2 linked regions of the Homo sapiens genome follow. The protein of the gene in region 2 interacts with the protein of the main gene of each other region in a biochemical or structural test. Each region holds a gene or a part of one and is shown on either strand. Other genes may lie near its edges.

What was found. The genes of interacting proteins can lie anywhere in the genome.
Region 1: the proteins of DNM1 (region 2) and ITSN1 form a complex in vitro, tested with the Homo sapiens proteins (2 studies listed by BioGRID and IntAct, with this or other methods).

What each region holds. Positions count from the first base shown.
Region 1 is NC_000021.9:33,640,526-33,644,125, reverse strand, and holds the start of ITSN1 (intersectin-1), read right to left. Parts: upstream 1,626-3,600; 5' UTR 1,413-1,625; intron 1-1,412. UniProt on the Homo sapiens protein: Adapter protein that provides a link between the endocytic membrane traffic and the actin assembly machinery. Acts as a guanine nucleotide exchange factor (GEF) for CDC42, and thereby stimulates actin nucleation mediated by WASL and the ARP2/3 complex.
Region 2 is NC_000009.12:128,220,379-128,223,978, reverse strand, and holds part of DNM1 (dynamin-1), read right to left. Parts: intron 1,783-3,600; coding exon 1,640-1,782; intron 1,519-1,639; coding exon 1,383-1,518; intron 1,187-1,382; coding exon 1,119-1,186; intron 1-1,118. UniProt on the Homo sapiens protein: Catalyzes the hydrolysis of GTP and utilizes this energy to mediate vesicle scission and participates in many forms of endocytosis, such as clathrin-mediated endocytosis or synaptic vesicle endocytosis as well as rapid endocytosis (RE).

The DNA of each region.
Region 1 (3,600 bases), on a different chromosome or scaffold from region 2:
TGTTTAAGCTTCTGCACTCTCAACCTTAAAGTCATCTAAAAATAAAGGTATCCCAACAAATACATTCCTCCTATTCATATTTTGGGGGTTTAGAGTGGCACCATGCAAACCAGCTGGCCTGCTGGGTCCTGGCCCCAGTTCCTGCCCTCACATCCTGTCCACTACATAATCCATGAGATCTCTGTGCCTTTCTTTTCATCCGTTCCACGGGATTAGCAAAACTGCCTCCCCGCTGACAGAACTGAGAATTTCTAGAGGCATTTGTTTGTATGGGATTTGCTGTTATTATCTACCCTCTTCATTGGCCTTGCCTTTATTATCTGTACGTTTTGATCAAGAGGAGCAGCAAGAGAAGAATGCCAACAGACAAGCACAAAGAAACGCATCTGGCCGGAGCCTGCATGTATCTAAATTTCCAGGTTGCTGCTGCCCTCAGAATAGCACTGATGATGGCAAAGTTCTAGAGGAAACTTTCATATTGAAGAGGCTATAAAAATCTCTATAGCCTCCAACTCCACAGAGAAGCCGCTAATCTATTTCTTCCAAAGCAAAGCCTTCTTGAGTCTGAATCACAACAAAAGATTGCCCATAGGAAATGTAATCTCCGAAGTTGTTTTCTAATCCCAAGGCAAGCAGAAGCGCAGGAAGGTGCGGCCGATTCCTCGCCGGTTTCCTTTTTTTGGGAATTCGGATTGCATTCGTGCAAGCAAGGGACTGCAATTGTGTCTTGGGTCCACACCACAAAACCGTGTCGGTGCGTAAGAAGGGAAGGGACGCGGCGGACCCGGGGACGCGCTCACAGGGCGCGGAAGACGCTCCCCTTTAAATGCCTTCAGGGGCGGCCCCGCGGCGCGCCCTGGGGCCGAACGGCATTGCCTGCCCTTCACTGACCCAGGATTCTGCAGGCTTGCGAGCGAGGGGCCGAGGAAGGAGCCGGGGCTCCAGGCAGAGGCGGCGCCGCTCCCGCCAACGCGGGTCCCCGGGAGGCCGGCGGGAGGCGAGGCCGGGCCGCCCCTCGCCGGCGGCCGAGGGCAGCGAGGTCAGCCCGGGAAGGAGCGGCCGCCCGGGGTCCCCGCGAGAGGAGGGAGCCCGCTCGGCGGCGGGGCCGCGGCGCCCATTCATCCCCACGCCCGTCCCGCGGCCGCCACCCCACGGCCCACCGCGGCCCCCGGCCTCCCAGTGCGGGTCCGCCCGCCACTCCGCCGCCACCCCCGAGGACGGGAAGGACAAGGCAGAGGGGCAGCCGCTGCCGTCTCTCGGGCGCGCGGCGAGGGGCTAAGGGCGGCCGGGGAGACAAGCGCCGGGCGCGGGACGGATGCCCCGGGCAGCCATCGCGCAGACCCCCGCGCCGACCCCCGCCCCCGCTGCAGCCGCCCGTGGTCCAGGCCGCCGCCTTGCAGCCCTCTCCTCACCTCATCTCCGGGCGGGTCCGCGCTGCCGCCCCAGGGACAAATCAGTGCCGCTCACGCGCCGCTGGGAGGGACGCAGGAGCCGCAGCCCCGCACACCATCCCCGCCCGCCTCTCTGTCCGTCCCGGAGCCCGCTCGGGATTCTTCCTCGCGAGCCGCCGTACTACGGAGCAACCAAGCTACGCTCCCTCCCCTGGCGCCTCCACTCTTCTCTACCTCCTTCGCTCCCTCCCTCGCTCCCTCGCTCCCGCCTATCTCCTCATCTCCCTCCGCTGCCTCCCCCGCCCCCCATCCACCATCCATCTCCGCCCATAAGTGGGTGGGGAAACCGCCAGCCAATTGGAAGAAGGGGCCCGCACCTTCTCACCACCCCCTACCACTGGCCCCGCCCACCGTGCGAACCCAAAGAGGGTGAGCCAAAGAAATGTAAGACAACAGAGTGACAAGCCGAATGAGCCAATCAGCAGGGGCTGTGTGGGGGCAGGATTAGCACTCTCCCCCTCCTCCCCATGTAGGCGTAACAGGAGATTTATGGTCTGAGGTTGCCTATCGTGGTTTATGGAGATTTTGTTGCACGATTTCGGTGCATCTGCTCGTTGCCGTGAGAGACACTAGATAGGATGCACTTAATTGACTTAATTATTGGAGGTTTTCAAGGAGAGAATAATGTGGAAAGGAAAAAGGCGAAGCACAACCCAAAGGGGTTGGCCGGGCCTATGGTTGGAATGAGGAAGGGTGTGGTCTTCGGCTAAAATTTGCATAAAACGGAACCCATCCGGGCGATTCCAACTTCGCCCATTTATTGGTAGTCCTTGGGGCGGGGCCTCGCCTCTTTCTCCGCCCCCGAGCGGAACATGACGGGAGATGTAGTTCCGAGACCGGTTGCCATGGCGTTCTGGACAGCCTCGCGAGTCCGACCCCGCCCTTCAGGAGTGACGAGCGGCCTGACCAATGGGAGCAGGGGGCGGGCTCTCTGACGAAGGACTGGAAGGTGGCGGTGGTGAAGGTGCAGGCCGTTGGGGCGGCTCAGAGGCAGGTGAGCCCCGGGAAACGCGTCCTGTGTCTTGGGAAACGGGCCTTTAAGCGAAAGGTGGAGAGATGCCCCACAGAACCGTGCAGCCCTGGGGAGGATGGTGGTTCGCGTCGAACCCTAACCTGGGACTTGTTCGGGCCCAGGCCTAGCTTAGCTGAGGCCGCTGAGGGGTGGGTAAGACTAGATTTGAGGGACAGTTTCCTGGACCTTGACGGGTTTTGATTGTAGGTCTTATCTCAGTTTGCATCTCCCTCTACTTTTATGGAGGCAGAGGTCTGGGAGTGCCCTTCCACTTAATCTCCCAGGTTGGGTTTTTCTCCTCTGCTTCTTGTTCCTAGAATTTGAGTGTCTTTTTCTTTCTCTGTTACTTCTTCTCAGCCACTTCTTTCTTCCTCATCACTTTGCTGTTTTCGGAAAGCAGTTAGTAGTTATTCGCTGTATGTGGCTTTTGAGCCAGATCGGCCCTCTTCATTATGCTAAACGGCGGAATCATCTGGAGCGAGATGTAAGCATCGCCTTGGGATAGGTCTGGGTCGGGGCCGAACATCTGCGTTTCTAAGAAGCTCCCAGGTGCTGCTGTCCACGTTATGAGTAGAAAGGTTTTACCTGAACTCTGTCCAGTACAAATATAATGCGAGTCCCTTATGTCATTTTAATTTTGGGGTAGCTACATTTAAAAAGTGAAAAGAAACACGTGAAATTAATTTTAATTATATGTTTCATTTAGCCTAGTATATCTGAGACATTATCATTTCAACGCTTAAACAAATATTTAAAAATTGAGATTTTACGTTCTTTTCTTCGTATTAAATCTTCAAAATTAAATTAAAAAATTAATTCTTCAAAATTAAATCTTCAAAATCTGATGTGTATTTTCCACTTAACAGCGCATCTCAATTCCGACTAGACACAGTTGGAGTGCTCAATAGCCACCTGTGCTAGTGGCTGCTACAGTAGCCTACTGCAGAAATTAAAAGGTGGGAAAAATAAGGTTGCATTGACCAAACCCTTTGCAACTCTATGAGATGGGATTCAGAACTACTTTAGAGATTCTCTGTAATTGAGATGTGCCCAATTTACAGAAATAATAGTCAAAATAGCCAACATTTCTGAAAGTATGATGTTGCGCTGAGTGCTTTGCAGGTATTATTTAATCCT
Region 2 (3,600 bases):
CTCCCGGGTTCACGCCATTCTCCTGCCTCAGCCTCCCAAGTAGCTGGGACTACAGGCGCCTGCCACCACGCCCGGCTAATTTTTTCGTATTTTTAGTAGAGACAGGGTTTCACCGTGTTAGCCAGGATGGTCTCGATCTCCTGACCTCATGATCCGCCTGCCTCGGCCTTCCAAAGTGCTGGGATTACAGGCGTGAGCCACCGCGCCCGGCCCTAATGAGGCTCTTTGGGGCAAGACAAGGTGGTTGAGTATCTGATATGTAAGTCCTGCTTCCTCGTAAGGGTCTGTGCATATAGGAAGTTCTATGGCCAGAAATGGCTTGAAAATTGCCAAACGTGGTTCTCCATAAGAGCCTTTCCAGGAATAGAGTGTTTTGTTTTAAGACTAGGAAAGAGATCTTTTTTCTGTGAATTGGCCAGTGCAGTTATCAGGAAGTAAATTCCATGCCAAATCTTGGAAATGAACCTGCATGAGAGCAAGGGGACACTGGGTCTTGTTCACTGCTTGGCATAGGGTAGGTGCTTTAAATTTTCCGGCCCAGTGGATTTGTTGGATGAACACAGCATAGATCTGGGTCCCTGAAGGGGATCTAAGCTTTTAAGGAACAGATTCCACCTCCCAATCCTGTTTCCTACTCCACGGGTTGCCTAGAAGGAGGGCGGTGGGGTGGAATGGGACTGACTCTGGGCTACTGTGAATACAGGAGGGTGTGGAGGATTGCAAAGTCCCCGGCCGTCATAAAAGGACACAGCCTCATACTTAGATGCTCCACCCCAGGCCCTCGTAGTGGTTTGGACATCTTTGTCCGGTTACCTGGGTGGCACTGGGGGAGCTATCTCACCCTGGGGATGGGCCCAGCCCCAGAGGGTGTTTCCCCGGCCACCTGCGCCCTGGGCTGTGCCCAGTTGGCCCAGCAAGTTGCAGTAGGCGGGGTGGCCCGGGTCCACCTCCCCAAGCTGGAGCCTGTCATGCAGGGAGCCAGAAAGTTGGGGTCGAGAGGACTGGGGAACAGAGCTTTCAGTCCTTCCTGAGGGAGGCCCACTTCATCACTCCCTGTGCCTCTGTCCCAGACCCCCTACTTCTGGGGTTCAGCCACCCTCCCAGGCCCCAATACGTGCCTAATGCCATGGATATTCTTGATAGCATAGCTGATCTCCCTTCGGAGTTCCTTCTCATCAAACTCCATCTGTGTAGAAAAGCAGAGAAAAGCCTGGTCAGGGCCTGTCCTACTACCTGGGAGGTCAAGACAGGGCCCACCCCACACCTAGGGCTGGGCATCAGGGCCTGTGGGGTGGGGGCCAGCAAAAACACACGCAGAGAGAGTCCTGAGTGAGGGTGGGGGGAGTCCTGAGCCATCCTGTCCCCAGGGCTGCCTGACCTACCTTGACCAGCTCGAAAGGGAAGCGCTCGTGGAAGATTCGGTTAATGCGGGCTCCCCCTGACAGTTCGTAGGTGTCGATCTGATCTCCTGAGCCCTCAATGCGCTTCTCAAAGTCTACGGCGAACTGCTGGACCATCCTGGTGGGAGAGTGGTGTGGCCTGAGGGGGCAGGAGCAGCCCAGCAAAGGGAACCCTGGGAGAGCCCCACGCTGAGAGGCTGGGGGCGGGGATTCAGTGATAGGAGCTGGGGGAGCCTCACTGCAGCAGGGCCTTGGTCTTGCGAGCTGGGTCATCAGGGCGGAAGTTCTTGTATTCCTCCACCTCCTTCTCAATGGACAGTAGCTGGCTCTGCAGCTTGTTCCGCAGCCCCGGCAGTGTGTCCCGGATGTGGTTCGTCAGTTGCTGGGGGTAAGGGTGAGGAAAGGGTTGAGGACAGATGGTCACAGGGCCAGGAAGGGACTTGGATGCCAGGGGACTGTGTGAACGTGGTGAGGTGGAGAGCTATGGAGGGCAGCCCTGCCACTGCTGCCCGGGCCACTAGCAAGAAAACTGGTTCATAGAAGGAGCTTGCAGAGATGTATTAGTTGAATTAATGAGTGCATAATTTTCAATAAAGCCAGAAATCTGGATTTGTATTTGGAATTTCCTGATTTTTGGCCAATTTAATCTTTTTATTTTTATTTATTATTATTATTTTTTTGAGACGGAGTTTCACTCGTCACCCAGGCTGGAGTGCAATGGCGTGATCTCAGCTCACTGCAACCTGCGATCTCTGCCTCCCAGTTTCAAGCAATTCTCCTGCCTCAGCCTCCCAAGTAACTGGGACTACAGGCGTGCACCACCATGCCCAGCTAATTTTTTGTATTTTTAGTACAGGTTTTCGCCTTGTTGGCCAGGCTGGTGTCGAACTTTTGGCCTCAAGTGATCCACCCGCCTCAGCCTCCCAAAGTGGTGGGATTACAGGCATGAACCACCATACCATCCCAATTTAATATTTTTAGACGTGCGTCTGAGGCAGGGGTGGCCAGAGGGCTGCCCCTTGGACCCTCTGGGTTTAAAGCCTCCTTTAAGGTCATTCTCAAGTTCTAGCACTCATGCTCACTAGGTGCCCCCACACAGTATCTCCCTGAACCTTTACAACAATCCTATGAAACAGGTCTGATCACCATTGTCTCCATTTTACAGATGCAGAAATAGAGGCTCAGAGGCCAGGCACGATTATGGCTCATGCCTGTTATCCCAGCACTTTGGGAGGCCAAGGCGGGCAGATCACCTGATGTCAGGAGTACGAGACCAGCCTGGCTAACATGGTGAAACCCCGTCTCTACTAAAAATACAAAAATTAGCCAGGCGTGGTGGTGTGTGCCTGTAATCCCAGCTACCTGGGAGGCTGAGGTAGGAGAATCCCTTGAATCCAGGAGGCAGAGGTTGCAGTGAGCTGAGATCGCACCATTGCACTCCAGCCTGGGTGACAAGAGCAAAACTCCATCTAAGAGAGAAAGAAAGAAAGAGAGAAAGAGAGAAAGAGAGAAAGAAAGAGAGAAAGAGAGAAAGAAAGAGAGAAAGAAAGAAAGAGAAAGAAAGGAAGGAAGGAAGGAAGGAAGGGAAAGAAAGAAAGAAAGAGAAAGAAAGAAAGAAGAAAGGAAAGAAAGAAAGAAAAGAAAAGAAAGAAAGAAAGAAAGAAAGAAAGAAAGAAAGAAAGAAAGAAAGAAAACAAATAAAGAAAAAAGAAATAGAGGCTCAGAGAGCCAGAGAGAGTGTCTCAGAGGGGGAGTGACAAAACTGGGATTGGAAACCAGGTCTTGCCTACACAGACAGACAGTCAGACAGACACACACACACACACACACACACACGCGCGCGCGCGCGCACTTCAGTTCTGGATGCCCCATTCCAGATGGAGAAAAGTCCTGGGGAAGCCCCTGGGATTCCCTGTCAAGGTCTTCAGCCGAGTATACTTGAATCCTGGCCCCCAAACCCAAGCTCTTCCCCATGACACCCTCCACATAGGTCTTGGCCTTCTCTGTGTTGGGGACTTCCAGGGCTTCCCTGGCAGGTCCCAGACAGGGAAAGGTCAGTGAAGCTTTGCTGCTACCTAGCTGTGGGGCTGTGGGCAAGTTGCTTTGCTTTTCTGAGGCTCAGTTTGTCTATCTGCACTACGGAGAGGCTAACCTCTGCTGTTCACTCTCAGAACACACTTAATTTATCCTGTTTTCATGC